6 linked regions of the Homo sapiens genome follow. The gene in region 1 interacts genetically with each later gene. Each region holds a gene or a part of one and is shown in the gene's direction. Other genes may lie near its edges.

What was found.
Region 2: changes in UBE2J1 (region 1) and MAN1B1 together harm fitness less than expected from each alone (positive genetic interaction), as found in Homo sapiens cells (one large-scale study listed by BioGRID).
Region 3: changes in UBE2J1 (region 1) and TRPC6 together harm fitness less than expected from each alone (positive genetic interaction), as found in Homo sapiens cells (one large-scale study listed by BioGRID).
Region 4: changes in UBE2J1 (region 1) and RAB1A together harm fitness more than expected from each alone (negative genetic interaction), as found in Homo sapiens cells (one large-scale study listed by BioGRID).
Region 5: changes in UBE2J1 (region 1) and B3GNT2 together harm fitness more than expected from each alone (negative genetic interaction), as found in Homo sapiens cells (one large-scale study listed by BioGRID).
Region 6: changes in UBE2J1 (region 1) and CUL4A together harm fitness more than expected from each alone (negative genetic interaction), as found in Homo sapiens cells (one large-scale study listed by BioGRID).

What each region holds. Positions count from the first base shown.
Region 1 is NC_000006.12:89,331,287-89,336,314, reverse strand, and holds part of UBE2J1 (ubiquitin-conjugating enzyme E2 J1), read left to right. Parts: intron 1-883; coding exon 884-1,013; intron 1,014-3,109; coding exon 3,110-3,229; intron 3,230-5,028. UniProt on the Homo sapiens protein: Catalyzes the covalent attachment of ubiquitin to other proteins. Functions in the selective degradation of misfolded membrane proteins from the endoplasmic reticulum (ERAD) and is essential for cells to recover from ER stress.
Region 2 is NC_000009.12:137,102,508-137,106,884, forward strand, and holds part of MAN1B1 (endoplasmic reticulum mannosyl-oligosaccharide 1,2-alpha-mannosidase), read left to right. Parts: coding exon of another isoform or gene 1-1,858; exon of another isoform or gene 1,859-2,469; intron 2,470-3,617; coding exon 3,618-3,808; intron 3,809-4,181; coding exon 4,182-4,302; intron 4,303-4,377. Other genes in the region: uncharacterized protein LOC124902313, read left to right, coding at 1-232, 269-1,703. UniProt on the Homo sapiens protein: Involved in glycoprotein quality control targeting of misfolded glycoproteins for degradation.
Region 3 is NC_000011.10:101,573,079-101,578,106, reverse strand, and holds part of TRPC6 (short transient receptor potential channel 6), read left to right. Parts: intron 1-5,028. UniProt on the Homo sapiens protein: Forms a receptor-activated non-selective calcium permeant cation channel. Probably is operated by a phosphatidylinositol second messenger system activated by receptor tyrosine kinases or G-protein coupled receptors.
Region 4 is NC_000002.12:65,094,745-65,099,772, reverse strand, and holds part of RAB1A (ras-related protein Rab-1A), read left to right. Parts: intron 1-1,706; coding exon 1,707-1,802; intron 1,803-5,028. UniProt on the Homo sapiens protein: The small GTPases Rab are key regulators of intracellular membrane trafficking, from the formation of transport vesicles to their fusion with membranes.
Region 5 is NC_000002.12:62,198,321-62,203,348, forward strand, and holds part of B3GNT2 (N-acetyllactosaminide beta-1,3-N-acetylglucosaminyltransferase 2), read left to right. Parts: intron 1-5,028. UniProt on the Homo sapiens protein: Beta-1,3-N-acetylglucosaminyltransferase involved in the synthesis of poly-N-acetyllactosamine. Catalyzes the initiation and elongation of poly-N-acetyllactosamine chains. Shows a marked preference for Gal(beta1-4)Glc(NAc)-based acceptors.
Region 6 is NC_000013.11:113,243,242-113,248,269, forward strand, and holds part of CUL4A (cullin-4A), read left to right. Parts: intron 1-1,168; coding exon 1,169-1,273; intron 1,274-1,707; coding exon 1,708-1,818; intron 1,819-1,910; coding exon 1,911-1,996; intron 1,997-2,714; coding exon 2,715-2,822; intron 2,823-5,028. UniProt on the Homo sapiens protein: Core component of multiple cullin-RING-based E3 ubiquitin-protein ligase complexes which mediate the ubiquitination of target proteins. As a scaffold protein may contribute to catalysis through positioning of the substrate and the ubiquitin-conjugating enzyme.

The sequences.
Region 1 (5,028 bases):
CCCTGTCTCAAACAAACAAACAAACAAACAGAAAAACTAAATTATTGCTACTTTTACATATATTTTGTTTATATGATATTTCATAATTTTAAATAGCATGTTCTTCAAGACCTAAGGTTTTTTAATAGAACTAGAAGTACTATGAAAAACAATTTTTTAGAAGGAAGTTTAACAGTGTAACAATATATGTTTTATATATGATGCATGTTTACTTTCAGTCATTCATATCCTCAGAGGACTCTTGTAAACTTCAAGGAAGTTTTGACTATATCTGGAATACAAAGGGAAAAATGGAAAAACAAATATATTTTAGAAAATAATCTAGTTAACAGACATATCCTGAGTCTCTACCTAATGTATAATCAGCAATAAATTAAGTCTTTGGATTTTCTGCAAGTTCTCCCAAGTCTTTCAAGTTATACTGCTATTTGTGAGGGGTTTTTTTTTCCCTAGAAATATCTGTAAATTCTATGTTTAATTAGTTTCTTTACTGCTTTATATATATTTCTGCTAACAGATAATTTGATCTTGTTAAAGGACTTTTTTCACAGCCTTAAAATAGGTTTGTTATATGTGATCTCAAGGACAGTATAATAGACAATTTTCTCATTGTATAGATGTAAAACTTATTTTTCTTTAGATAGTTTATTGGAAAAAATAGCATCTGAGCCCTGGATTTTTTTAAAGCCAGCCTAACATTTACTTGTCTCAGGACTATAATCATTACATTAATTTTCTAATTCATAGCATGTGGATAAATGTGATGTGGAATTTTCCAGTGTTCCTTTCTTTTAAGTTTAATGATCGAGCATTTGAGTGTCTCAGTGAGAGGGAATTAAACATTTAACTATTTATTTTCATTTAAAAAATCTTTTTCTACTAGATCACAAGATTTCTGTTGTGAAGGATGTGGCTCTGCCATGAAGGATGTCCTGTTGCCTTTAAAATCTGGAAGCGATTCAAGCCAAGCTGACCAAGAAGCCAAAGAACTGGCTAGGCAAATAAGCTTTAAGGTACTATAAATTCTTAAATAAATGCTAATCTTGCAACCCTTTTGTTTACTGCTGGATTCTGCATAGAAAGGAAAGCGATGCAGTTCTATTACAATATGACATTTGCCAATGTTTTTCTTTTTTCATATTTTTATATTTTTAATTTCTGTGGTTACATAGTAGGTGTATATATGTATAGGGTACATGAAATGTTTTAATACTGGCATGGAATGTTTTTCTTATTACAAAATTCCTAACTACATTCATGAAAGCTTTATAGAATAGTGAGGGAGTGAAACTTGAACTCTGGTATACAATGCCAGGGTTCAAATCCCAGCTCTGTTGCTTATTAGTAGTATGATGTCAGACATATTAATTAACCACTTTGTGCCTTTTTATTATCTATAAATAATAATGGTACCTAAATCATAGGATTGCTGTGAGGATTGAATTAATATATGTAATACATGTGTTGCATTCAGAACTGTCCCTGGTGCTTAATAAATTCTAGCTATTATTACAGAATATATAGATAAGCAACAAGAAGAAAATGATGGCCGGGCGCGGTGGCTCACGCCTGTAATCCCAGCACTTTGGGAGGCCAAGGCGGGCGGATCACCTGAAGTCAGGAGTTCGAGACCAGCCTCAACATGGAGAAACCCCGTCTCTACTAAAAATACAAAATTAGCCAAGCATGGTGGTACATGCCTGTAATCCCAGCTACTCGGGAGGCTGAGGCAGGAGAATTGCTTGAACCTGGGAGGCAGAGGTTGCGGTGAGCCGAGATCGCGCCATTGCACTCCAGCCTGGGCAACAAGAGCGAAACTCCATCTCAAAAAAAAAAAAAAGAAAAAAGAAAAAGAAAATGACATTCATAATCTCACCGCCAAGAAATAGCTACTGTTAATATTTTGGCATCCCTCCTATATATCCCTTTTTTCTGTATATGTTTTACCCGAACATAGGATTATATAATATTTTAATACTTTGAGTATTAAATATTTAATTATTGAAGGTATTAGCTGGGCGCAGTGGCTCACGCCTGTAATCCCAGCACTTTGGGAGGCCGAGACAGGCAGATCACGAGGTCAGGAGATTGAGACCATCCAGGCTAACACGGTGAAACCCTGTCTCTACTAAAAATACAAAAAATTAGCTCGGCATGGTGGTGTGTGCCTGTAATCCCAGCTACTTGGGAGGCTGAGTCAGGAGAATCGCTTGAACCTGGAAGGTGGAGGTTGCAGTGAGCCAAGATTGTGCCTCTGCACTCCAGCCTGGGTGACAGAGTGAGACTCCATCTCAAAAAAATATAAATAAATAAATACATACATACATACAGACGTAAAGTATTAAGTATTTAATCCTTCTGGAATTTAATTAGCTTCACAAACAGAAATGTCAACCTGCATTAAGCAGCATGCTCTCTTCCTCTTCCCTCTCCACTTCTCTATGGACTGTCTGTCTTTCCAGGTCCAGTTCCCTTCTCTTTTATTGTAGTGCCTGGAGGAGGAGTTGCTCAGAACATGTTTACTTTCTTCCTTCTGAGGATTCCTATTACACTTAAAATTGCTTCTGAAAAATCTCAGGACCAAATGTGTTTTGTACATGAGAATTTTTCAGACTTAAGAAAAGATCTTACATATACCATATATTAACTAACCTGCCGTGCGATCTGGGGCAGCACCTCATAATCAAATCCATTAGGATTTCTTCAGCAAATCTGGGAATATTACATTAATGTGGGATTAATGTTTACACTAATGTGGGATAAAGACTATTCATAGGTTCACATCAGCTCATATCAGGCTTTGCCTAAAAATTACCAAAAAAACCTTGAGTTTTGAGAGCTTTTTAGCATTGTGGATTGTGAACCATGGGTGTTAGTTTTGTCCCTCATCAAGTAACGGCTTCTTGAGAACAGGTGTTGTGTATGCTTCTTCCTATGATACCTAGTACAGTGTTGGACACAAGAGTGCTCAGTGATTAACTGCCTGATAATAGATATTAAACTAGCAATTAAAATAAATCCAACAGAGAGGATTTAGCAGGTTGTAGATTGTGTATGTTTCCTGTTGTTTCCTGTTGTCACACTGCTCTTGGGTCTATCTTGTTTATAGGCAGAAGTCAATTCATCTGGAAAGACTATCTCTGAGTCAGACTTAAACCACTCTTTTTCACTAACTGATTTACAAGATGATATACCTACAACATTCCAGGGTGCTACGGCCAGTACATCGGTATGGCTCTTATCTTTTAATATATATGTATGTCTCTATCATTATCACTGTTTGCAATAGGAGGAGAAGATCCTGGATCAAATATCTGAAAAATTTGGTTCTCTTAACAACTGGATTCTAACTCATCAGTCCCGCTAATGAATTATTATGTTGAGCAAGTTGTTCATGCTTTCTGGCCTCAGTTTTCTTTTTTTGTTAAATGGGGCTGGATTAAATAATTTTTGTCTTGTCCCTCCAGAATTCTGTGATTCTCTGAAAAGTTAATTTTAATATAGTGTTAGACTGAATAAAACAAAATATCCATATGTTAGCCACTTTCTAAATAGACACTATTTTTGGCAGGATTGTTCAGCTGCATTAAGGTACTGACTTAATAAAGTCGTAGAGCCAAAAATTTACTTAGACTTGCTCTGTCCAACACAGTAGCCACCAGCCACATGCAGGTGTCTACATTTAAATTTAATCAAAATCAAGTAGAATTTAAAATTCAGTTCCTCAGTCACACCACATTTCAAGTGCTCCATAGCCACATGTGGCTAATGGGTACCATATTGGACAGTGTAGACATAAACATTACTATCATCACAAAATTCTGTTGGACAATGCTACCTCGTATATACTAAGTGTCCAATAAATAATTGTTGAATAAAAGAATGAATGCTATGAGTGTTGTTAGTGGTGCCCTGACCTGTTGTCTAAGAAATTGTTTGGCCTAGGTGATCAGAGAGAGTGATTTAAAAAATATGACTGGATTGGTGCCAAAAAATAAGGATTATGGGAAAAAAATGATTTTCCTTCCTATATATAAAAGATTAACTGTCTTTGGAAGTCTTTTTGGTAACAGATTGTTTGGTTAAGTAGTCACATTTTTTTTGTTGTTGTTTCTCCAGTTTATTGAAGACTTTAAAGGGTGAGGGAAAATTGAAATAGAAGTTGGGCAAATATAGATTTGCCCTTTACCCAGCAATAACGTACGTAAAGTGGGAGTGAATAGTCTTGAGTGAGTCTCTCCTATTCAGAGAGTGAGCTGGGCAGAGAAAAGTTGGTTGAAGAAGAACAGGGTGGTAGTCTAGGGGGACTGAAGATGGAGGTCCAAGAAAAAAGTGTGTAGCGATGAGTTTAAATCATTTTTGTGTGATCCCAATGTAATTTTATGAATTGCAGGGGAAAACAATGAATTAATTTTAAGGTCAATATGTTTTAGTTCAAGATATTGAAAAAGCTTTCTAATTACTTTTTATTTCATAGTTTTTTTTCTAATAGAAGCATTCTATTACAAAAAGGAAGGTGGTAATCTTTTTTCACCTTTTAGGACAGCCTCCTAATGTTTGTGATGTATTTAAATCTTTTGTGTATTTTCAATCTATGTTAAGTCCCCTTGTTACATATTCCAGTTATACTTATTCCAGTTGTAATTTACTTTGTAATTATTTATTGTCTATCTCTCTTCCCAGAATGTAAGTTCTGTGAGGGTCAGGGGTCTCTTTCCGCTTCTCCACTGTATCCCCAGTGCCTGGCTTAGTGCCTTCTATATAGTAGATTGCCAATGTTTGTTTGTTGATTGAATGAATGAATCTTAGGATTGGTACTTTAAAAAATGCTAAGAATACAATTAAATAAATCAAGAAGTTTAAGTAAATTAGAGTGTACAAATAATGATGTTATTATAGTAGTATTTCTTGTTTTGATTTAGTACATAAAACTTAGAATTCTTATTCATAGATACAGGTCATTAATTGAGACTATTTTTAGTGAAAATACCAACAAGCAATAAATTGTCTAAAATTGCAAGTTAAGTT
Region 2 (4,377 bases), on another chromosome or scaffold:
ACACACATTCACGCTGTTGCAGGCGTGCAGGTCGGTGGTGTTACACACATTCACGCTGTTGCAGATGTGCAGGTCGGTGCTGTTACATTCACGCTGTTGCAAGCGTGCAGGTCGGTGGTGTTACATTCACGCTGTTGCTGGCGTGCAGGTCGGTGGTGTTACACACATTCACACTGTTGCAGACATGCAGGTCGGTGCTGTTACACACATTCATGCTGTTGCAGGCGTGCAGGTCGGTGGTGTTACATTCACACTTGCAGGCGTGCAGGTCGGTGGTGTTACACACATTCATGCTGTTGCAGGCGTGCAGGTCGGTGGTGTTACACACATTCACACTGTTGCAGGCGTGCAGGTCGGTGGTGTTACATTCATGCTGTTGCAGGCGTGCAGGTCAGTGGTGTTACACACATTCACGCTGTTGCAGGCATGCAGGTCGGTGGTGTTACACACATTCACGCTTTTGCAGGCGTGCAGGTCGGTGGTCTTACATTCATACTGTTGCAGGCGTGCAGGTCGGTGGTGTTACATTCACACTGTTGCAGGCGTGCAGGTTGGTGTTACACACATTCACACTTGCAGGCGTGCAGGTCGGTGGTGTTACACACATGCTGTTGCAGGCGTGCAGGTCGGTGGTGTTACATTCACACTGTTGCAGGCGTGCAGGTCGGTGGTACACACATTCACACTGTTGCAGGCGTGCAGGTCGGTGGTGTTACACACATTCATGGTGTTGCAGGCGTGCAGGTCGGTGTTACACACATGCTGTTGCAGGCGTGCAGGTCGGTGGTACATTCATGCTGTTGCAGGCGTGCAGGTCGGTGGTGTTACACATTTTCACGCTGTTGCAGACGTGCAGGTCAGTGGTGTTACATTCATGCTGTTGCAGGCGTGCAGGTCGGTGGTGTTACATTCACGCTGGTGCAGGCATGCAGGTCGGTGGTGTTACACACAACGCTGTTGCAGGCGTGCAGGTCAGTGGTACACACATTCACGCTATTGCAGGCGTGCAGGCCGGTGGTGTTACATTCACGCTGTTGCAGGCGTGCAGGTTGGTGTTACACACATTCACACTTGCAGGCGTGCGGGTCGGTGGTGTTACACACATTCATGCTGTTGCAGGCGTGCAGGTCGGTGTTACACACATTCACACTTGCAGGCGTGCAGGTCGGTGGTGTTACACACATTCACACTGTTGCAGGCGTGCAGGTCCGTGGTGTTACACACATGCTGTTGCAGGCGTGCAGGTCGGTGGTGTTACATTCACACTGTTGCAGGTGTGCAGGTTGGTGTTACACACATTCACACTGTTGCAGGCTTGCAGGTCGGTGGTGTTACACACATTCACACTTGCAGGCGTGCAGGTCAGTGGTGTTACACACATTCATGCTGTTGCAGGCATGCAGGTCGGTAGTGTTACACATTCATGCTGTTGCAGGCGTGCAGGTCGGTGGTGTTGCACATTCATGCTGTTGCAGGCATGCAGGTCGGTGGTGTTACATTCACGCTGTTGCAGGAGTACAGGTCAGTGGTGTTACACACATTCATGCTGTTGTGCAGCTATCACTTCCATCTCCAGAGCCCTTTTCATCTTAAAACTGAAGCTCTCCCATCACACAGTGACCCTTCATGTCCCTCCCCAGTCCCTGAAAAACACTGTTCAGGTTTTTCTTCCTGGACCTCATTGTGTGGAGTTCCTCGTGTGAGTGCAGTCACACACGATTTGTCCTTTTTTTGTTTTCGTTTGTTGAGACAGAGTCTCATTCTGTCACTCAGGCTGGAGTGCAGTGGCGTGATCTCAGCTCACTGCAACCTCCACTCCCAGGTTCAAGTGATTCTCCTGCCTCAGCCTCCCAAGTAGCTGGGATTACAGGCGCCTGCCACCACGCCCAGCTAATTTTTGTGTTTTTATTAGAGACAGGGTTTCACCAAGTTGGCCAGACTGGTCTCAAACTCCTGACCTCGTGATCCACCCGCCTGGGCCTCCCACAGTGCTGGGATGACAGGCGTGAGCTACCACACCCGGCTGATTTATCCTTTTATTTGGGCTCCTTTCACTCAGCGTCTTTAAGCTTCATACGCGAAAGATGCTTCAGAGATTCCTTTTTCAGGCTGAATATCTGCTGCGTGGCTAGGCCACTTTTTGTTTAATCCTCTCTCCTCTGGTGGACACCAGGACTGTGCTGTTTTGGTTGCTGTAAGCGCGGGTGCACACGCCTGCCTGAGGCTGTGTTTTGGCCGTTGTGAGTGTGGGTGCACACACCTGCCTGAGGCTCTGCTTTGTTGTGAGTGCGGGTGCACACACCTGCCTGAGGCTGTGTTTTGGGTGTTGTGAGTGTGGGTGCACACACCTGCCTGAGGCTGTGTTTTGGGTGTTGTGAGTGTGGGTGCACACACCTGCCTGAGGCTGTGGCGCGATCTCGGCTCACTGCAACCTCCACCTCCCGGGTTCAAGCGATTCTCCTGCCTCAGCCTCCCGAGTAGCTGGGACCACACCCACCACCACACCCCGTTATTTTTTTGTATTTTTAGTAGAGATGGGGTTTTGCCATGTTGGCCAGGATGGTCTGGAACTGACCTCAGGTGATCCACCCACTGGCCTCCCAAAGTGCTGGGATTACAGGTGTGAGCCACTGTGCCCGGCCTCTTTTTACTTTGTTAATGGTGTATTTTGATAGATAACAGATTGTCATTTTCATGAAGCACAGCTGGTCAGTTTATTGTTGCTCATGTATTTGGCCTCATGTTCGAGTCCCTGTTTTTAATCATGAGCTGGACACAGCCCTCTTTAGAGCAACTGTGACCACTTGTGGTGAGAAGTGCAGCCCACACCATCCACGTGAGGCTCCCACACGCCATCCACGTGAGGCTCCCATGCAGACATTTAGAAGGCGTTTTCACTGCAGCTCAGAAAATGGCCCCAGGCCCCCATGGGCACCCCCATGTCACCAGGGCCTCTGGTTGCTGCCGGTACACAGGGATAGGCAGCCAGGCCTCGAAGGTGCTGGGCATGGGTTTGGGTGTCTGCGTTGGGTAGAGACCCGGAGCGCCCTTGCTGGGCGTGCCCTAACATCCCGGTACCCTGTGCCCCTCTGTGGGCCAGGACGCCTGGTGCTGCCAGCTGGGCGTAAGCCCTGAGGAGCTGAGGGTGGCTGTGACTTGGAGGATGAGTAGGAGCTCACCAGGAGGGCGTGGAGCCGAGGCGTTTAATATCATCAGGAGCAACACTGGGCTCAGAAGGCAGGCACACTTGCCGTCCCTCCAGAGCCATGGCTGACGGCCAGGCCTGGTGGGCTCTCGTGAGGACAGTGCCTGTGGTTGTCAGATGCTGTCCCTTCGAGTAAGGGATGAGAGCCATCCTGAAGATGGGTCAGCTCTGTGGTGACCACCCGTTGGGAGCAGTGACATTCAGGTGCGTTGCACTGGTGGCTGTGTGGCTGTGTGGTACGGCCACCAGGAGCCATGTGGGCAAGGACAGCTGTGGGCTGGGCACAGAGCTCTCTCTGCTGGGAGTCAGTCGGTGCTGGGGCGAGGGGAGGCAGAGCTCACAGAGCCCCTCTACAGCTCACCCTGCAGCTCGGCCCTGGCCAGTAAACCCACCATCCCCCTTTCTGCCGCAGGAGGCAGTGGAGAAGGTGACACAGCACATCCACGGCCTGTCTGGGAAGAAGGATGGGCTGGTGCCCATGTTCATCAATACCCACAGTGGCCTCTTCACCCACCTGGGCGTATTCACGCTGGGCGCCAGGGCCGACAGCTACTATGAGTACCTGCTGAAGCAGTGGATCCAGGGCGGGAAGCAGGAGACACAGTGAGGCCCGGCCCGCTGCCCCCAGCTCCCGCGGCTCCCCCGTTCCCGCAGCCCCCCACTCCTGCTGCCCCCAGCTCCCACGGCCCCCGCTCCTGCTGCCCCCCGCCACACTGTGTGTCAGGAAACCGCAGCCGTGCCAGGCCTGGCCCAGGCATTTATGTGGAGGGCGTATTCATTCACCTCTCACCGTGGCCTCTGGGGGGGTGAGGGGGGCATCTTCACTGAGGGCCATGGGCTGTGCAGGGTGGCACCTTCTGTCCGGCAAGGGCCAGGCCTGCTGTACTTGTGTGGGCCCAGGATGTGCCTGTCCCTGGTGCCCCACGGGAGCCGATGCACCGTCCTGGTAGAGTGAGATGACTGCTGGTGTCCACAGGCTGCTGGAAGACTACGTGGAAGCCATCGAGGGTGTCAGAACGCACCTGCTGCGGCACTCCGAGCCCAGTAAGCTCACCTTTGTGGGGGAGCTTGCCCACGGCCGCTTCAGTGCCAAGATGGTGAGTGTGTCTGCGGGGCCTTCCGGCCGCCGCCCCTTTTACCTTGGCTTCCAAGGTGCCTGAGTCATGATGTCA
Region 3 (5,028 bases), on another chromosome or scaffold:
GCCTAGCAGAGAGAAGGTACCATTTAATCTATTCCTCAACAAAGAGATTTCCTCCTCCTTGATATTTATTCAAATAAGGAATAAAATGATGCCAGCTACTTTAATGAAATAGCATCTGGATCAGCTAAGTTGGGCAGAAGAGTGAATGTCCATATCAAAAGAGATACCTATATCTTGTATTCCAGCTGCCTGTCACAAAGACTCATCTTTCAGGGAATCTTTCACCAATCACTACTGCCACCAGCATACTACTCTTCTTTTAGCTCTCTAGCCTGAGGCTCTTCCGTTAAAGTTCCCTCTGCACACCTGAGGCGAGGCTATATCTTTACCAAAGAGAATTAATAAAAAGGGAAAAACTCCTGGCTGGCTATAACTGCTCTTCCAGCTCATTTATGGAGTCTCCTGGGGATTGACCCTTGCCTGGCCCCAAGCATTATCTATCTGGCAGCGAGCGTTCTTGTTTTCCCTCTGCAGACCGTCCTCAATCAATCTAGTCCTTTGTCCTAGCCCAGACTGAAGAATGACTGCCTCCCCACCTCCCGCCACAACCTTTTTCTTTGGTGTAATATCTATTTTCCAAACTTTATTTCTTTTTAAAATTCTCCTTCTTTCCTAGATGATTGACATTAGATATGTCTACTCCTTTAAGCAAAGATACCACCACTGACCTACAGAAGTGTGGCTTTACTCTCTGACCCCAAAGGGGCAGTCACATCAGAACATGACAGTCCAGCAGCAGTACGAGGTATTTCCAAATAAAATTAAAGGGCTGATTTTCTTAACAAGACATATTTATTGAATGGTAAGTGAAATCAATAAAAGAGAACATGTGCGACACAATGATTTCTTATACATATGTAGTGGTCTAGAACGCAGAAAGAATCCTATAATCTAGTATACCCTTTGAAATGGCATCTATAACCATAAAGCCAAGACCTAGACTTTGGTGAAAGATTGCAGTGTGGAAGCTTGCTCTTCCAGGGGAAAAGCACGTGTAAAAACCACCTTCAAATCTGGCTCCCCTTCTATTAGGAGTAATCGTCTCCCCCAACCACTTGGATTAATGGTGGGTCTCATAGCTGATGACTTTGAAGCTCTGTATTCTGCATGGAAATGACCTGTTTTGTGTTGAAACCTCCCCTGGCTTGAAGTAATCAACTCTACTGGTAACATATTATTATCGTGAAGCATTTTTAGGGTGCCAGCATTGTAGGTTGTGGAATGATTGCCAGATGTGCTTAAAAGTCCACATTTATTCTGTAACAAAATGTTTGCCTCCAGGAAGACATTGCATAATTTTTTTTCTCTAGACAGTTTATGCTCCTTGAGTTGTAAGAAGTAACTTCATAAGGCAATTCATCTTAAAGAGGGTAAAAGTCATAAAAGGAAAACATTTTCTTGAGTCCATTCTTATTTTTCTCCCTCTTTCATAAAAAATGCCAAATATAATTGGTTCCAGTTGGATAAAATTACCATGTGTGTGATTGCTCTTTGTTTAGGAATCTTCTGATGGCTTTCAATACATGCAGAAGTGTTCATCCATATGCCAAGTTTCAATTAAACTTTGGCATCTAAAATTTGGTATGCTGCTCAAGAGGCTTTAAGCCATTGGAACTGACTGAATCACAGTTCTTATAGAATCTCTGTTTAGAGCAGAATACAGAAATGAGTGTTACACATACTCAAACAACCTATATGATTGCAGCATAACTGTTCTCCACCTAATTCAGCTCTCAGCCATGACAAAGAGGAGAAATGATGTTAACTAGAATTACATACAGTTTAATGTAAGTTGCTGTTTCTGTGGAGGACTAATCCAAAATATTTATATATATTTGGGGCAACTAACATTTTTTGAATACCTATTCTGTAGCAGGTTCTTTTCTAGTTGTCATACAAATGTAATTTGATCTTCAGAGCATCTACTCAGCTATTTTTAGCATCCGTTTTATAAAGAACAATGCTGAAATTTAGAAATGTTAAACAATGTGCAGTAAGTTACACAGCCAGTAGGTTGTTGTCAAGTGGGCAAAACCCAATATATTTGGGGCTGGAACACGTGGACCATGGGGCTGGCAGATTCTCTCAGTATCCCATATCTCAGTCCTCTATTCTCTCAGTATTCAGCCAGGCACAGCTGGATACAGGTGGATTATGCTCTTCAAAAGCGCACTCACCCCCATTCCTTCTCTTCTCCCTTTTCATAGGAATTTGGAAAGCCACACGTTGGCTCTGATCTACTGAACCAACATTCCTTGTGCTGTGCTCATTATATCTAAGTTATATCCTGGGTACGGATAGAAGACTGGAAGAAAAGGGCATAAATAGCAGTAATAAGTATGTTTAACCCCCACTTTCTCTTTCTGTTGAAATCTTAGCCATCTTTGGAGGTCAAGCTTTATATCTCACTTCTTTCATTAATTCATTAATCTATTTATTCATTCATCTCTGTTGATTTTATATGATTATGTCCAGCAAGAATAGAAATAATAGCTAGATTTATTAGCGACTTCTGTGTGCTAGGCCCTTCTCCAAGTGCTTTGTAGGTATTAACTCATTTAATCCGTATCACAAACCTATGAGATATGCATTTTTATAATCCTCACTTTACTGATAAGAAAAAAGAATGACAGTAAAAAGAAGGTAGGTGACTTGCCAAATGCTACACAGCTAGCAGTTGGCACAAATGGGAAGAAAGAAAGGGAAGAGCAAAGGATTTTGTTTTATCTCTTATTTCAATAAAGAGTGAAACTAGGTTTTGAAAAATTGCCAGTCTTTGTCACCAAAGGAAGACTATGAATGTTAACAAAATTGTGTCGATTGCTAATGTTACCAAAGATCCACAAACTGATCATGACTAAAGATTGCAAAAGGCAAGGCTTTCTTTTACTTTTCATTGCCATCATGTGGATAAAACTGCTTCTATGCTATAATGCAGGTTGTTTTAGAGACATTGACTCACATGACAGTGTGAAACTGGGGATTTAACCACAAGATTTGCATAATTTTTAAAGCATTTACATGGTATTCGTCTAAAAATATAAGTTGCCAGGAATCAATTACAGTGTGGATAGTCATGTTAAGATTGACTGCCTATTCAAAGCAGAGTTCATGTTTCCATTGCACCAGCTTTGGTTTGTGATACAAAAAGCATTTTGTCCTGACTTGTAGTAGCACAAAACCTTCACAAAAAAAAGAAAAAACAAAAAAACTAGGAAGAGTTCTTTTCATGGGAATCGCTAATAAAATTATCTTGAGAGTTAGGAGTCAAAATAAGAATTAGAAATGGCAATTTCTAAAGGTAACTTAAAAATTCTTTTAGGGAGCTAAACTGTTACAGATAAAAATCATTTTTGTTATTACTGAGTTAGCCTTCTTGAAACAGAATTTTGTATAGAGTAGATTGAAGGGTGGCAGAAGCAGCTATAAAAAGCTGATCCTGGGCAGTAAGAAAATCCCCACACTTAACCTAGGGGAGGGATTTCTGCAGGAACCCTTTTCTTGGAGGGGCATTCAGGGCCAGACACTGTATTCCATCTGGAAAGATTCTTAATTTATTTCAACAAACATTTGTTTAAGTTCCTTTGGTATGTTAGGCACCATTTTAGGGTAACCAATGAATACCATATAGCATGAAGTCTAAGCTTCTATCAATTGTAACCTGCTCTGACATTTTATGTATCTTTAAGAAATAAGCAAAAAGAAGTGTTATCAGTTAAATTATATCTTAGATTTTTATTTTATACCTCTTAAAACAGTTCTTTATACTCAATTAGATATAGATTTGGATCATATATAACTCTTATGCACATAATTAAAAAATAAACAAATTTGTTATGGTATTCCTAAGTTCCTTCACATTTGGGGATGGAGTCTTCAGAATCACTTTTCAACTCAGAAGCTTCAGTGCCCATATTTTTCCACAGGATTGTGCTCTGTGCCAAAAGGACATTGGTGATGAAGGATTTCTTTAAAACAATCTAAAGAATCCATAATAGACCAAAAGCTTTTGGTGCTAGACAATTAAACTGAGTTTGCAATTACATAGAGGTAGACTGTTTTGAGTAACAGTTCCAGAATGTTGCTAAACAAATCTGATTCAACACTGTTCCTTACGTACTCTCCACCCTTCTCAACACACACACACATACACACACACACACACACACACACACACACACACACGTATTTGTTTCTTAGGCTTGAAAGGAGCTTCACTACTGTTCCCAGGATTTTTTTCAAACCATGCCATTCATTCTGAAACTCTGGATGCCATTGTTATTAATGTTGGCACATGCACTGATGATGAAAACTATGTCACGGTAATGACTGACACTTGACTGACAGCGATTGCAAGAAGGCTTGGATTATAAGACATGTTGTATGTAGAAAAGTTAAAATGGGAGAAATATGTGTCTTACACTCAATGAAATATGATGTTCAGTGGGCTAGAGTTACTGTAAATGAGAAAGAAGAGGAAACATGAAAGATTACAAGGCAAACAGTATTGTTTATGATCTGTCCAAAAGCTAAGAAGTTTGGATTTTATTCTCTAGCTAACTTGAAAACACAGATAAGACTATGCCAGGCCCTAGCTTTATTTACATTAGCTTATTTGATCCTCACAACAAACCTGTGTGGTTGGTAATATTATTTCTACTTGTAAATGCAGAAAAAGAAGTTCAGAAAGGTAAAATAATTTGCCAAAGAATTAATGGTTCTTAAGTATCTCAGCCAGGATTTGGGTTCATATTTGACTGTTTTGTTTATTTGCTTGTTTGCTTTTACCTTTACTGTTCTACGCTTCCTCTGAAGTAGAATACCAGTTCGATGAGGAAAGGAGGTACTCTGTAAAAAAATGACTCGCATCTGGTAGGGACTCAAGAAATATTTGTGAAATGAATAAATTAATGCCTGCCTTATACAAAATGATTTCAGTGTATTGGCCTTATCTCTACAATTCTTTCCTCTATGGACGTCATACTGTATCACTAGATTTTGCCTTTAGGGTATCAAGTTTTCATCTTA
Region 4 (5,028 bases), on another chromosome or scaffold:
TGGTGGCTCACACCTGTAATCCCAGCACTTTGGGAGGCCAAGGTGGGAGGATTGCTTGAGTGCAGGAGTTCAAGGCTTCAGTAAGCTACGATTGTACTCTAGCCTGGGAGACATCAAGACCCTGTCCCTTTAAGGGGGAAAAATAATTGAAAAAATCAAAAACTTAGTTTCTTGTTTCACAAGCTGCATAGGGCTAATGGCTACCATATTGGCTAGCACAGCTTATAGAACCTTTCCATTGTCACAGGAAGTTCTGTTTGGCAGTGCCGTTCTCATTAGACCTGATTCGATTAAGGTCCATCTTTGTTGACAGAGTACTTCTTAGGTGGTGCTTTGTGGTTCATATGATGATAGCCTGGTCTGTTCATTCATATATCTTTTCACGAGAAATATTTTTATTCCATTCTGAATAAAATTTCATGGCAGGTACTTGCAAGAAGCAGTTATAATTTTAAAAGTTTAACATTAGGTTAAAAAATTGACAGGAAACATATATTCACAGGAAAACTTGTACACAAATGTTCATGGCAGCATTATTCATAATAGCCAAGAAGTGGAAACAACCCAAATCAATTTATGAATGGATAAAATGTTGTATATTTGTAGTACATGTAATATTATTCAGCCAATAAAATGGGCCAGGCATGGTGGCTCACACCTGTAATCCCAGCACTTTGAGAGGCTCAGGCAGGGGGATCACTAGAGGTCAGGAGTTTGAGACCAGCCTGACCATCATCACGAAACCCTGTCTCTACTAAACGTACAAAAATTAGGCAGGCGTGGTGATGCACGCCTGTAGTCCCTACTACTCAGGTGGCTGAGTCATGAGGATTGCTTGGACCCCGGGAGACAGAGGTTGCAGTGAGCTGAGATCATGACACTGCACTCCAGCATGGGCAACAGAGCAACATCCTGCCTCAAAAAAAAAAAAAAAAAGAAGTACTGTTACATGGTACAACATGGATGAACCTTGAAAACATTCTGCTAAATGAAGGAAGACAGACACAGAGGGCCACATATTTTATGATTCCATTTATACGAAATGTCCAAAATTGGCAAATCTAAAGAGAAAGTAGATTAGTGGTTGCCAGGGAGTGAAGACGGGTTCTTTCTGGAGTGAAGAAAATGTCCTGGAATTCGTGGTTGTAGTTTGCAACCTTGTGAATGTATAAGGACCACTGAATTGTCCACTTCAAAAGGGTGACTTTTATGTTATGTGCATTATATCTAAAAAAAAAAATCATAATTAGGAAGCAAGATTGACTTCTAAGAAAAAGCGGAGTGAAATTGTTGTTTTGTGGTGAATAAATTGGGTGGGTGGGTCGCAAGAGTTTTGCTGATTAGTGATTAGAAAAATTATTCATAATCATTGAAAATATAAAATATTTTTCTATATGATGTATGTAAAGAATTTGGCAAGAGATGATGTTTGGAAAAAATAAAGAATGGCTATTGTAGAGATCTTAAGGAAAGAAACTACAGTTAAGTAGTGCTTTGTAATCAGAATATGAAGTAAGTACTGAAAGTGGATGGAGTGGCTGTTGTCAGCATGTTATACTTTATACATTTCATTCATAAATTTGGACTGTAGATAAAAGTAAACTTTTTTTTTATTTACTCTTGAACAACAGTTTTTTTTTTTCCACTTAGACTTGCATCTGCTCCACTGAACAATACATTTAATTGTTAATTATTTCCCCCTTCAGGATGATACATATACAGAAAGCTACATCAGCACAATTGGTGTGGATTTCAAAATAAGAACTATAGAGTTAGACGGGAAAACAATCAAGCTTCAAATAGTAAGTGACTTGGCTAGTAATTTTTTTGAAATTTATTTTGGTAAATTTGTAATGTATTGTTATTTTGTATATATTTACTATGCTAACAAAATTGAATGTAAAATGTCTTAAGATTCATGTACTTAAGATAGAATGGTAGAATAAGAATTACTTAGATTAAAAATAATATTTTCAAGATTACTTAAGCCTCATTGAATTTTCTATTCATGAAGCAGAGAAACTCATGTTTTAAGTCAAACTTGGTCCTCATCTTTTTCTTTTATCAGTGGAAATCTAAGTTCAAGTTTACCTTGTCCTACACTGCAAATGTTATAGACCATTTTTGTTTGTCTTTTACTGTGCTAAGTGCATGGAACATTAAAGGAACCCTAGGAAGAGATTCTTCATATGTGGCTCAGTTGAAGAGAAGTACTTATGTAGTTCTAAGTATTTTTATTAGATAGTGTGCACCAACTCTGTAGAAACACAGAATTTTGTTGGAAAAAGGAACTTAGTTTTTGTAACATGTTCATTTTACTGCTCAAAAAAACGAATGCTGAAAGATTTAATGACTTGCCTACAGTTACTGGTAGAACCAAGTGACCGAAGCTCTGTCTTCAATATTTTGTGTCTCTGTGCCATCCTATCCCCCTTATCCATCTTTACACCCCCAGCCCCCAATTAAATATAGGCAATTATAATAGTTCAGTTGTGCCTCTTCAGTATGGGTCTGAGTCCTGTCAGTGTGGGCATATCTGTGGTCTTTTAAAAAATAAATCTCTCAGTATTTTTCAGAGTAGGCTATTAGCAAGAAGTAGGCTATAAACACAGGAAACCAGTGACTGCCCCTTTTCATGGAACTGATGACACATGGAATTGGAAGGAGTCCTGCATTAGGAGTCAGAAGACTTAGATTTGTTGTCTTGGTTCTAGTATTTACCTGTTAGAGAATCATGGGTTTGTGTCTCTGGGGAAAAGGCCGAAGTAACCCTGAGACCCAGTTTCCTTTCTAAAATGTGTGTGATGACACCTGATTTACTAATTTATAAGCTAGTTGTGAGAACCAACTGTAATAGCTTTGTGTATGTGACAATACGTGTGAAAGCCCTTTGTAAACTTTTGGGCAGCATATAGATACTACTTATGATATGACATGCCCAGATAAATGGGTGTTTGATAGGTTAAGTTGCTCCCTTTTCTTACATGACTCTGATGAGGAAAAGAAGGTATGTTAACAAAAGATAGGTGGCTGTGGATATTGATATAAGTAAACACACTTGATGTGTCAAATTAGGACTTGCAAGGATTTAGTTTTCAGAAATAGCTTGAAATACTTTCAATCAGTGAACAAATTACCCTCCATATTTTTTCCCACGATATAAGTACAGTCTCAACCTTTTATTTGGCACCATAAAGAGCACATAAAGATCTACCCAAAACTGTACTTTAAAGCACTGGTATGGAATAATTGTATTATGTGTGATCATTGGTGTTTATAAGATTTGGGTGTGTATTCGTGTGTGAAACATTCATATTTTGTTACTTTCCTGTGGCTGGAAGGGATCTTATAGGACACTGTCTTTCATCTTTGTCTGTCTTTCATCTTTAATAGGAATTTCTTTTCCATGCCTGAAGGCCTCATTTTGAACATTTTGTTTGTTTGTTTTTTTATTTTTTGAGATACAGTATTGCTCTGTCTCCCAGGCTGGAGTGCAGTGGCGCGATTTGAGCTCACTGCAACCTCCGCCTCCTGGGTTCAAGTGATTCTCCTGCCTTAGCCTCCCTAATAGCTGGGATTATATGTGTGTACCACCATGCCCGGACAATTTTTTTTTTTTTGAGATGGAGCCTTGCTTTGTCGCCCAGGCTGGAGTGCAGTGGTGCAATCTTGGCTCGCTGCAGCCTCCGCCTCCCAGGTTCAAGCAGTTCTCTTGCCTCAGCCTCCTGAGTAGCTGGGATTACAGGCGTGCGCCACCACACCCTGCTAATTTTTTGTATTTTTAGTAGAGACAGAGTTTCACCATGTTGGTTAGGCTGGTCTCGAACTCCTGACCTCGTGATCTGCCTGACTCGGCTTCCCAAAGTGCTGGGATTACAGGCATGAGCCACTGTGCCCAGCCTTCCGATAATTTTTGTATTTTTCGTAGAGATGGGATTTCGCCATGTTGGCCAGGCTGGTCTCAAACTCCTTACCTCAAGTGATCCACCCGTCTTGGCCTCCCAAAGTGCTGGGATTACAGGCGTGAGCCACCACGCCTGGGTTTTTGAACATTTTTAAGAAGCTTACCATTTTTTCGAAATAGCTAGTTCCATTTTACACATAACTTCAGCTAGGCATGTTGCCTCATGCCTGTAATCCCAGCACTTTGGGAGGCCGAGGTCAGAGAGTCACTTGAGGCCAGGAGTCAACATAGCTCCTGTGACCAGCCTGGTCAACATAGAGACTCTATCTCTACCAAAAAAAAAAAAAAAAAAGTAACCAGGTGTGGTGGTCCATGCCTGTAGTCCTAGCTCCCCAGGAGACTGAGGTGGGAGGAATGTTTGAGCCCAGGACTTCAAGGCTGCAGTGAGGCAAGATTGCACCATTGCACCCCAGCTTTGGGGACAGAGTGAGAGACCCTGTCTCAAAAACAAAATAAGGCTGGGCGCAGTGGCTGTCCGGGCGTCGTGGTTCACGCTTATAGTCCTAGCACTTTGGGAGGCCAAGGTGGGCAGATTGCCTGAGCTCAGGAGGTCTAAGACCAGCCTGAGCAACATGGCGAAACCTCATCTTTGCAAAACATACAGAAAAAAACAAAAAAAACCACAAAACCTCTAGTTGCCAGTTATTTTTTTTATTTATTCCTAGTGATTCTTCTTTTTTTCTTTTTTCTGAGACAAAAATTTCACTTTGTCTCCCTCGCTAGAGTGCAGCGGTCAGCTCACTACATGATTCTTTTAGAGACATGTTAATTCTTTATATTGAGCTGAAGCCTGTTTCTTTTACTTCTGTCTCTTCTTATTCCTCCGCCTTGTAGAGCTGCCTGAATCAGATTAATTCCTCTTTTATTGGCAAGCCTGCCCTTCAGATTGATCTTATCACAACCTTTCTTCTACCTCTGAAGTCCTCATTCTTTCCTGTAATGATATTTTCAGAACCTTGTGCAATTTGGGTTATTCTTACATTTTATAAATGCCTTTTATTAAATTTGATTTCTTAAATCAAGTATGAGATATAACACATGAGGTAAATCCTGTCTTGATTTGG
Region 5 (5,028 bases), on another chromosome or scaffold:
TGTTTGCTCTGCAAGATTATTTCTGAGGACAAATAGGATGTTTGCCAAACTCCTAGCACTGCACCAGGAGAGCTAAGAAGTGCTTAATAAATGGTGGTCATTGCTGTAATCAATAGAGAAGTTCCTCCTGGCATCGACTTCCCCTTACCAAAAACAGTAACCCTGTGGTAGCCTTTTAGATTTCCCTGTCTGAGACTGAAATCAGCCACATTTGGCAGATGCACATCAGAAGGTTCTTAAAACCTAAGTAGTATTTTGAGGAAAATAAGCATGATTTGCTTGTTGTTCAAAAATTATGAATTTTTTTCTGGGCTTCTGGTGAAGGGCTGAATATATGAAGGTTTGTAGTTTTGAAAATTTTCTTGTTTTAAAGAAAAGTCATGTTTTAGGTTTCTGATAAACTAAAGTTGTGCTAAAAATAGGAAAGTAGAACTGATAATTCATAGTTGATTTTGACTATACTGTTCAGATATGTGGTTTTTTTTAAAAAAAATAGTTGCATTAGTGAGGCATCGTTGGTATGTTCTGAAGAGAAATATGCAGGGCTTTTTCAGCTGATGCAGGGATAAAAGAAAAGGTGAATCTTCTGTTTCTCAAACTTTGAAACTTAGCTTTAAATGTTTTTTTCTTTTTTTTTTGAAATGGAGTCTCACTCTCCCGCCCAGGCTGGAGTGCAGTGGTGCAATCTCAGCTCACTGCAACCGCTGCCTCTTGGATTCAAGTGATTCTCCTGCCTCAGCCTCCCCAGTAGCTGGGATTACAGGCATCCACCACCACGCCTGGCTAATTTTTGTGTCTTTAGTAGAGACAGGGTTTCACTGTGTTGGCCAGGCTGGTCTCGAACTCCTGACCTGGTGATCCACCCGCCTAGGCCTCCCAAAGTGCTGGGATTACAGACGTAAGCCACCGCGCCTGGCCTTAGCTTTAAATGTTTTCTAGCAATGCTAGGGTTTCATGAAAATCCTAATTTAGGGATGCTGATCCACAGCTGTTAATACTCTTGACATACTGGGTCAGTGCTTTTCATTCTTTCTGACTTGGTTAATGGATGTAGTATTTGACTGTATTTTTCTGTATTTTTTTGATGGTTTTATTGGAAAGTCTGTTAGAGACTTTAAAAATTAATAACTGCCTATGGTTACTTTTATAAACATTGAGACCTTGAGATCTTGCAACTAGGATAATACTTGGTGATGTGTAATCTATTGCAACATCCCTGATGGTGGTACATACATCACCAATACTGAAAGATTCTCATAAAGGCCTTTTGGTCTCTTATGTAAGTGCCCAGGGGAAACTAAAGTCATTTGGTTGCTTGGTATTTTTGGTGTGTACAGAAGGTTAAAACATGAATTAAACTAGACTCTGAAGTGGTAAATGTTTCCTGGCTGCATCCAGTAAAGAAAACAGCACAAACACCCAAAAGGTGTGGACCCAGCTGTCTTTTTCTCCACTCTCTAAGGTGGGATTGCTGTTCCTACGTACTTGCCAAATATGTCTGCAAATTACAGAATGAATACATTCCTCTCTCTGGAGAGGCAATTACTGTTTGAATAAGAGGTGTATGTATGTGTGGGGTAAGGTTTTGGGAGAATTGATGTAATGATTTCATCATCACTCACTGGTAAGGAGACTTTGCCAGGCTGGAACCTGTTACTTGATGGAGAATTTATTATTAGGGCTTATGTGGCACAATTACTTTGCTGCTGGAAAAAGTTATTTGTACTGAGTTTTCTATTTGTTACAAATTTTAAGAGTTGAGATTTTTGCCCTCTGTGTGTTGCCCTGTGAGTATTAACAACCTCTGCCCACCAGCTTTGTCTTTTTGCCTTGTCTTAATTTTTGTAACAAAAATTCAGATGTCTTTTGAGAGTCATAACATGTATCTTGTGCAATTTTAGCTTTAGGTATTTTCATATATAACTTTAAGAATGTTACACATTATTTTCTGTGCATCTATAACTTAAAAAAAACAAAAACCATTTTCTGATGTGGCTACAGAGGGGGAAATTCCCAGTAGCCAGGAAATTGATACTTTCTACTTTTCATTCTGTGGCATTTTAAAACAGAGGGTTCAGGTGTCTTCATTCTGATATGAGTAGGATGTACGTAGCTTACCAGAATGTTTGAAAAAAATGATAATCCAAGGTAATCAATTCTGGCATGTGGCTAGATTCTGTCCGAGTGCCATGTGGTGGTTTAGTGGTTAAGAGCATAAACTTGGAGTCCATAAGATGAGGATTTTTTTAACTTCATGTATAACATGCAGTAAAGTGTGAGAAGTGTTAATATTAAGCATGAGCTCATGTATGTAAGCTCTCAGATTAAGAAATAAACATTTTCAGTACTGCAGAAGGTTCCTGCGCCCATGTCTTGTCCGTGTTCCCACCCCCTCACCCTGAAGGAACTGTTATTCTTTCTTACATCATCATAGATGTGACTTCTGTCATCATAGATGGGTTTTACCTGTTGAACTTCATGTAAGTGGAATCAGTCATACAGTGTGGCATGTAGTCTTTTGTGAAATAGGCTTGAATTCTATTTTTACCACTTATTGTGTGACTACGGACAAGTTATTTAATCTGAGTCTCAGTTACGTATGGGAATGCCTAAAGTTAAAATTACACGAACTATTTCAGGATAAATTTTCTCACTTGTAAAATGGGGAAGATAAAGCCCTATGTTAGATTTACTGGGGAAAGTAATATAAAGCTACACCTAGAATACCTAGCACTGTGCCTGACTGCAGTTTCCTCTTCCCCTTTTTATTTCTTTAACAGGGTGATAACTAAAGCAACTAGATCTTTTGTGTTTAAATGAGCTATTTCATTAAAAGTTCTGTAGGTCTTTTATTGAAAATTAGAAGACAAATCTTTATTTAATACTTTGTTGATATAGCTTTAGCTTTAAGATGTATTATTTGTTAGTTGCCTGTTTTTGACATTTCCTCTCTAAAGACAGTCATTGAAATGTCCCATTCAGAGTTGTTTGGCCACCTGTGTAACATGAGCTAGGATGCAGTGATGAGAACTGGTTTATGGTCAATTATGGAGCTTGTGGAAGAGTTTAGTTTGGGTAAGAGTCATCAATAAGTGCCCAAGATGCTCACAACATCTGCTTTATGTTTAGTGAAATAATTATTTCAGAGGTGAAAGCACAGGACCAATTATTTTAATTGCTTGCTTCAGACAAGCCACTTAAAACATTTTCAGCTCTTGTAATCTTACCGTGTAAGCGGTATTACATAATTCCATGGCCTCATGTCTCCTTATTTGTTTGGTACTTTTCATTTTTGGACTCATTCTGCAAATGTAACTTGGGTAGTACTTGGCATTCTTTCTAAATGACTTTCATTAAATGTTTATTTAGAAAAAGTATTCAAGATAAAGTAAAGGAAAATAAAACTAATTCCACCCTCTCTCACCACTATAACTACATTAACTTGATGTGGGTCCTTCTAAGTGCTCATTTCTTCTTTTGTACACTTCTAGAATGACCTTAGGAAAAACATACTTCCAATACTTTATGGAAATTTAAAACAAAATATGGGCCTGCTTAGAGATGTCTAGCAGAGAAGGCAAGAGTCTTCGTAGGCCTAAGTTCAAATCTGTCCACACTGTGGTCCCTACTTGTACCTTTGTTAGTGCTGAGCAGACAGTCCCCAGAGACTCCATCAGAGGGTCCCCTGGTCTCCAGATTACAGTAGCCAACACGGAAAACCTGCCCTGGAATACTTCTCCATTAAGACCTCAAGATGTTTGGTGAAGTGAGCAGTTTGTTCTCCGACCAAACACGCATTGATTGAGCACTTGGTGTGTGCCTAGCACTGTGCTTGGCTGTGCGTGATTGCTGCCTTCAGTGGGCAGTGTGGTGGAGACAGCCAGGAACTGGTAAGATTGCCTTGGTAGAGGTGTAAGCCAATTATGTGTTGGAGGCAGCCAAGAAAGGCTTCTTAAGGAAGTGGCCTTTGGGCTTGGTCTTGAAGGATGTGAATAACATTTCAGAGGCAGAGAAAGGAAGGTAGAAGTGCTCAAGGGATTGTAGGCTGAGAAAACAGGACACAACAGAAAGGCTCATAGAGGTCTTTTGGGGAAACAGCAGGTGATCCATTGGGTTTGGAGTGCATGGTGCTTAGAAAGGTGTAATAGGCCATGATGCAATCTCGGGGATCATGCAGAGATGTGGCAGTTAATAGTTATGGAGGTAGTGAGGAACCAGTGAAAGTTCTTGTGGTCAGGGGAGAGAGAGAGAGGGTGTGGGTGCTGACAAGTTATGGCCAGGCTTGCATTGAGGAAGATGGGCCTGAGCGTGAATGAGGCGAGCCTGACCCCGGGCAGGTCATTGCAGTCCCTGCGTTCTCTGCTTCCCATTTGCCCCCTACCAGTTTCTCTCAGAAAGAAGCTGGAGGGATCCTTTAAAAACTGAAATGACTTGAGGTTACTTTTCTACTCAGAATCCTCCAGTCAGAATCCCTGTCTTCTTCAGAGGAAAGCCAGAGTTCAAATGTCACCTACCAGGACTGGTGATCTGCCCTCCTCCTCCTACCTCCCTTCTCCCCCTCATTTCACTCCAGGCACAAGGCCCCCAGCTTTCCTGCCTCTGGCCTTTGTGGTGACTGCTCCCCCTGCCTGGAACTATCCTCACCTCTTCTCTGAGAGGAGGTTTTCTCTGATCACCCGGCATAAAGCAGCCTTTCCTTATCCCCTGTGCAGTGCTTCATATTTCATCTAAGTGTTTATCAACCTTACAGCAATCAACTCTGACTTGGTTCTTTGCTGCCTGTTTTCAACACTGCTTGGTTTAAGTAGGCGTTTGACATTTGTTGAGTTAGGCCACTTCATTAAAGTTAGTCTTAGTAGAGGGGAAACTGAGGGCTCAAACCAGGGCAGGGATAGTACAAGATTGAAATATGTATGTGTGTTGTTTGGAAGAGGTGGGTGAGAGAAAGACTCCTGGTGGGTGTAAAGGAATTTGGAAACCAACTAAGGGAGGTTAGGAGAAGGGCCATGACACAGGTATATTGGGGCA
Region 6 (5,028 bases), on another chromosome or scaffold:
ATAAGGCAAAATCAACCAAAATGTTCAAGCTGCTCAAGGGGTGTGTGGAAAGCGTTTTTATCAAGTCTTATTAGGACACAAATTTAAAAACCGACACACCTGCATGCATGGGTGGAGGAGGGCATTTCCATAAGGGAAGATGAGGTAAGAATTTAGAAAAGAAATGATGCTTGACTTCGCCAAAGAAGGGAGGGGTGATCACCATCTTTGTATCCTCTAATCCATATTAAAATAGGATAAAACCAGATGAGATCTCAAATGATAATACTATTTTTAAGCTGTACAATTTTTTCACAATAATATCAAAATATATTTCAGAATTCATAGGCTTTCTCTAGTCAGTAAAATTTTTTTTTTAATTCGAAGGAGAAAGGGGGCAAAGAGAGCTGAAATACGACGATACTAGATTGACTGTTGATTACTGCTGAAGATGTAAGATGGAACATGGAGCTCATTGTGCAATTGTCTGCTTTTCTGTGTGTTCAGAATATTCCATTACAAAATGTTTAAAAGAAAAAAACTAACAAAAACAGCAACAGAAGGAATTCAGGAGGCAGTTTACTTTGGCTTTTGTTCCTCTGTATCATTTGTGGTTTCTCTAAAGCAAAGGGATGTTGAGCTCTTGGGAGTTTGGGCTTCTGGAAGTCTTGGGTTCTCCCATCACATGGGGACTTTGGTCCTCCCTCCCAAGCCACCTGACGATGGCTTGTGCAGCCTCAGAAACAGGAAGCCCGAGTAGAAATGCTTTCACCCTGCGTTGCCACCTTGGATGCTCTGAGAAAGTCTTTCTCTTTGAGAATGTCTCCTCTGCATTCATGACACCAGATCCTAGAAATAGGCACTCCAGCGTCCGGGGCAGTCACGTCCTGAAACCTGAGCATGTATTTGCTGAAGTCATTTTATTTTGAAATTCAGAGATTGCATTTAAAGATAAGAAAGATATTTAAACCTGCTTTAAACATTCAGTCCTGGCTTCATTAAAATTTTGGCAAGTATTTACTCTCACTTGACTTGAGAAGTACTTACCTTAGAAAATCAGATATTTGTTTTTTTGTCATATAGTCATTTTGGGAAGGTTCCAGAATGTTCCTGTACAATGTTGCTAATAGAAATTGAAGATGCTCTCTTTTTCTAGTTTAGAGTATTTACTATATGTTTATGCTCACAGCAAAGCATGTGGATTCAAAGTTAAGAGCAGGCAACAAAGAAGCCACAGACGAGGAGCTGGAGCGGACGTTGGACAAGATCATGATCCTGTTCAGGTTTATCCACGGTGAGACTCGGGCACTCAGAAAATGCTGCATAATCAAGAGGTGTAAACAGGCCCTGCTTTCCCAGAGGAGGTTTAGCATGAGAATGTCAGTATCAGTAGAGCCAGTTTGCATTAGAATGAACACTTTTCATCCTTGCTAACATGGTGAAACCCCGTCTCTACTAAAAATACAAAACATTAGCCAGGCGTGGTGGCAGGCGCCTGTAGTCCCACCTACTTGGGAGGCTGAGGCAGAGAATGGCGTGAACGCGGGAGGCGGAGCTTGCAGTGAGCCGAGATCGCGCCACTGCACTCCAGCCTGGGCAACAGAGCAAGACTCTGTCTCAAAAAAAAAAAAAAACACTTTTAAGGGTTTTCAGCAGTTGAAGTTTGAAGTTTAACATTTGCTTATCAACTCTCTGATGTCTTGATTATTCTCGTCTGGTTATAAATAGGTAAAGATGTCTTTGAAGCATTTTATAAAAAAGATTTGGCAAAAAGACTCCTTGTTGGGAAAAGTGCCTCAGTCGATGCTGAAAAGTCTATGTTGTCAAAGCTCAAGCATGGTAAGTATGTGGGGCCTGGGCTCCTCCCCTGTAACTGAGGGTTGCTGCCCCGTGTGTTACCCCGATCTCACTCCCTCCTTTGCTGTGTCCAGAGTGCGGTGCAGCCTTCACCAGCAAGCTGGAAGGCATGTTCAAGGACATGGAGCTTTCGAAGGACATCATGGTTCATTTCAAGCAGGTGAGTTGTGTTTCTTAGGTAAAGCGGCTTTTTAAAAAGTATCTGTTAGTGTGGTGGCTCATGCCTGTAATCCCAGCACTTTGGGAGGCAGAGGCAAGAGACGTTCTTGAGGCCAGAAGTTCAAAACTACCCTGATCAACATAGCAAGACCCAGTCTCTACAAAAGAAAAATTTTTTTAATGAACAGGTAGTCCTAGCTACTGGGGTAGGGCTGAAGTGAGAAGATCACTTGAGCCCAGGAGTTTGAGGCTGCAGTGAGCCGTGACTGCACCACTGCGCTCCAGCCTGGGCAACAGAGTGAGACCTTGTCGTGGATGGGTGGATAGATAGATAATACATAGACAGAGATAGCAGTACCTTGTCATAGATAGATAAATAGATAAGGTAGGTAGATTCAATAGATTAGATAGAATGAATCTCACTCTATGTAAGAAGAAAATTACACTATTAACGTTTCACAAGTAAATTTTAAAAGAAGAAAAAGAAGATCTAAACGTGTGGCAAGAATTTTATTTCAGTGAGTCTGGTGGTGACACCTGAAGAAGGGAAAAAGGCAGTCCTAGTGAGGCATTGGGTTTCATGGAATACATTCTGGGGACTGAGATAAATTCTAACACAGATGAAACTTTATATTGAAAATTACACGGTTTATTTTGTTTTAGGTTAATTATGTTTTATTACTTTCTCAAAATGATTGTCTTGGATTTCTCTGTTTTAGCATATGCAGAATCAGAGTGACTCAGGCCCTATAGACCTCACAGTGAACATACTCACAATGGGCTACTGGCCAACATACACGCCCATGGAAGTGCACTTAACCCCAGAAGTAAGTGTGCAGAAAGCATGCTGTCCGCTCCCGCTGTCATGCCCTTACCAGGCACAGATATGTTGCCTTCAAGAATTGTTGAATGGGGAGTTTTTAAAAATAGCCCACTCAGTCCAAAATCAAAGTGCTCTTATGGTCTTTGGAAATGTGCTTGAGAAAGTGACCACTTTTGTCACCTTCTGTGGCTCCTCCCAGTGCAGCCTGTGTCCACCTGCTGACCTGCAGGGGGCCCATGAGCACAGGCACTTGTTTTGGAAGTTATGGCTTATTAAGCTGCGGTTCTTGTCTGGTTGTTCTTTCTTTCCATTGTAGACAGTGCTGAAGTCTTGGGAATGGCATTATTTAGGGCCTTCTTTGTCAGCCACTACTTTAGCTACACTAAACCCTTCAGTGGAGGGTTTGCACGCCGGAGGTAGAATTCTGTGCTCAATGAAGTTAACATCAGCAGGAGATACAATACATGCACCATTCATTTAATACCAGGCGAAGGGAAAGGGCTGAGACCAGCCTGCAATCATGGAAGACTTCCTGGAAAAGGCGTCCCTTAAGCCTGATATCAAGTAAAGATGAATGATGATTTCGTCAGCTGAGAAGGGAAGAAAGACACACAGCTACAGTGGTAGGACAGTGTGATTCCTTTTCTTATCCATCATGAGGGTCATGGCCAATGCTCCTTTAACAAAAGACAAATTAGGAGGAGAAAACCTTAACAAATTTATTTAATCAAAGTTTTATTTAACACATCAGGCTTCAGAAATGAAGACCAAAGACCCAGGGAAGACTGTCCATTGTTATGCTTAGGTTTGATAAAGAATGGGCAGCCATGTAGAAATAGGTGTGTTAGTCTGTTTTGCATTGCTGTAAAGGAATACCTGGGGCTGGGTAATTTGTAAAGAAAAGAGTTTTCATTGGCTCATGGTTCTGCAGGCTATACAAGCATGGCACCTGTGTCTGTGCAACTTCTGATGAGGTCCCAGGAAGCTTTTACTCAAGGTTGAAGGCAAAGGGGGAGTAGGCGAGAGAGAGGGCGCAACAGGTGGTGGGGGAAGGTCCCAGACTCCTTAACAATCAGATCTCGTGGTAACTCATTACCACAGGGAGGGCGCCAGGCCATTCATGAGGGATCCACCCCCATGACCCAAACACCTCCCACCAGGCCCCACCTCCAGCACTGCAGATCACAGTTCACCGTGAGATTTAGAGGGGACAGACCCCCAAACTCTTATCAATGTGACTGGACAGAAGGGTACCATCTAACAGTAGTAGAGTAGCGGGGAAACCAGTAAGGCCTGTCTGTTCAGATTCTTCTTGGCCTCACTGGGCAATGTTCTTTCCTCCCAGGTGTAGGGCAGGACACCTCTGGAACAAGAGTCTTATGACTTAACTATCAGCAAGGTAGTTCAGAGAACTTCTTAATATCCAGATCCTACACAAAAGGGCATGGGAAGCATCGAGTAGTATCTCCAGGCTTTATGGCTGGCTTTGGGCAAGAGGGGTTTGAGTTTTCTCTGGCCTGCCTTGGGGAAGAAGAGTTCTCATTCCAGGAGAACTTTGGGGGAGAAGGTGAGTGAGAGAGCTTGCTTCTGAGGCGTCCTAGCCAGACTTAGAGAACATGTGCGGGATGCTCAAAGAAAGCCAGGCAGCCTGCTTTCCACGCTGGCCACGTGGTGCTGTCCCTTCCTGTCTCCACAGATGTTTGTGCTTCTGCACCATTCCCTTTCCCCTTAATATTCTAGTGGCTATTTCCCAAGAACATAAGCACCTGTCAAATGAGGGCATTCATTCTGATGTAATACTTTCACCCCATTTCTGTTGGTTGTCTCAGATATGTCCTTTGTGGTGTTTTTCCGGTACCCAGCTGAGCCCAGGACCCAGGCGGCCTTCGATGCTCCCTGTGAGTAGGTTCAGGTTGGGCAGGTCCAGCCAGATGCCCCGTGTCCCCATCAGGATCCTGGCGGGAGGTGCGCACTATCACGTGCCCCAGTGTCTTGGTGACATTCGATAGGATCCTCCTGTGAAGGTGCTGGCTGGTTTCTCCACCGTATCGTTAGTGTTTTTCCTTTTGTAATCACTAAGTAATCTGTGAGGAGACATTTCAAGACTACGTAAACCTCTTAATCCTCATCCAGCTGTCACCTGTGTGGCGATTCCTGGCTGAATTGATTTTTACCTGGTGAATGGGGATTTTTTTCCAGCTCTATCATTT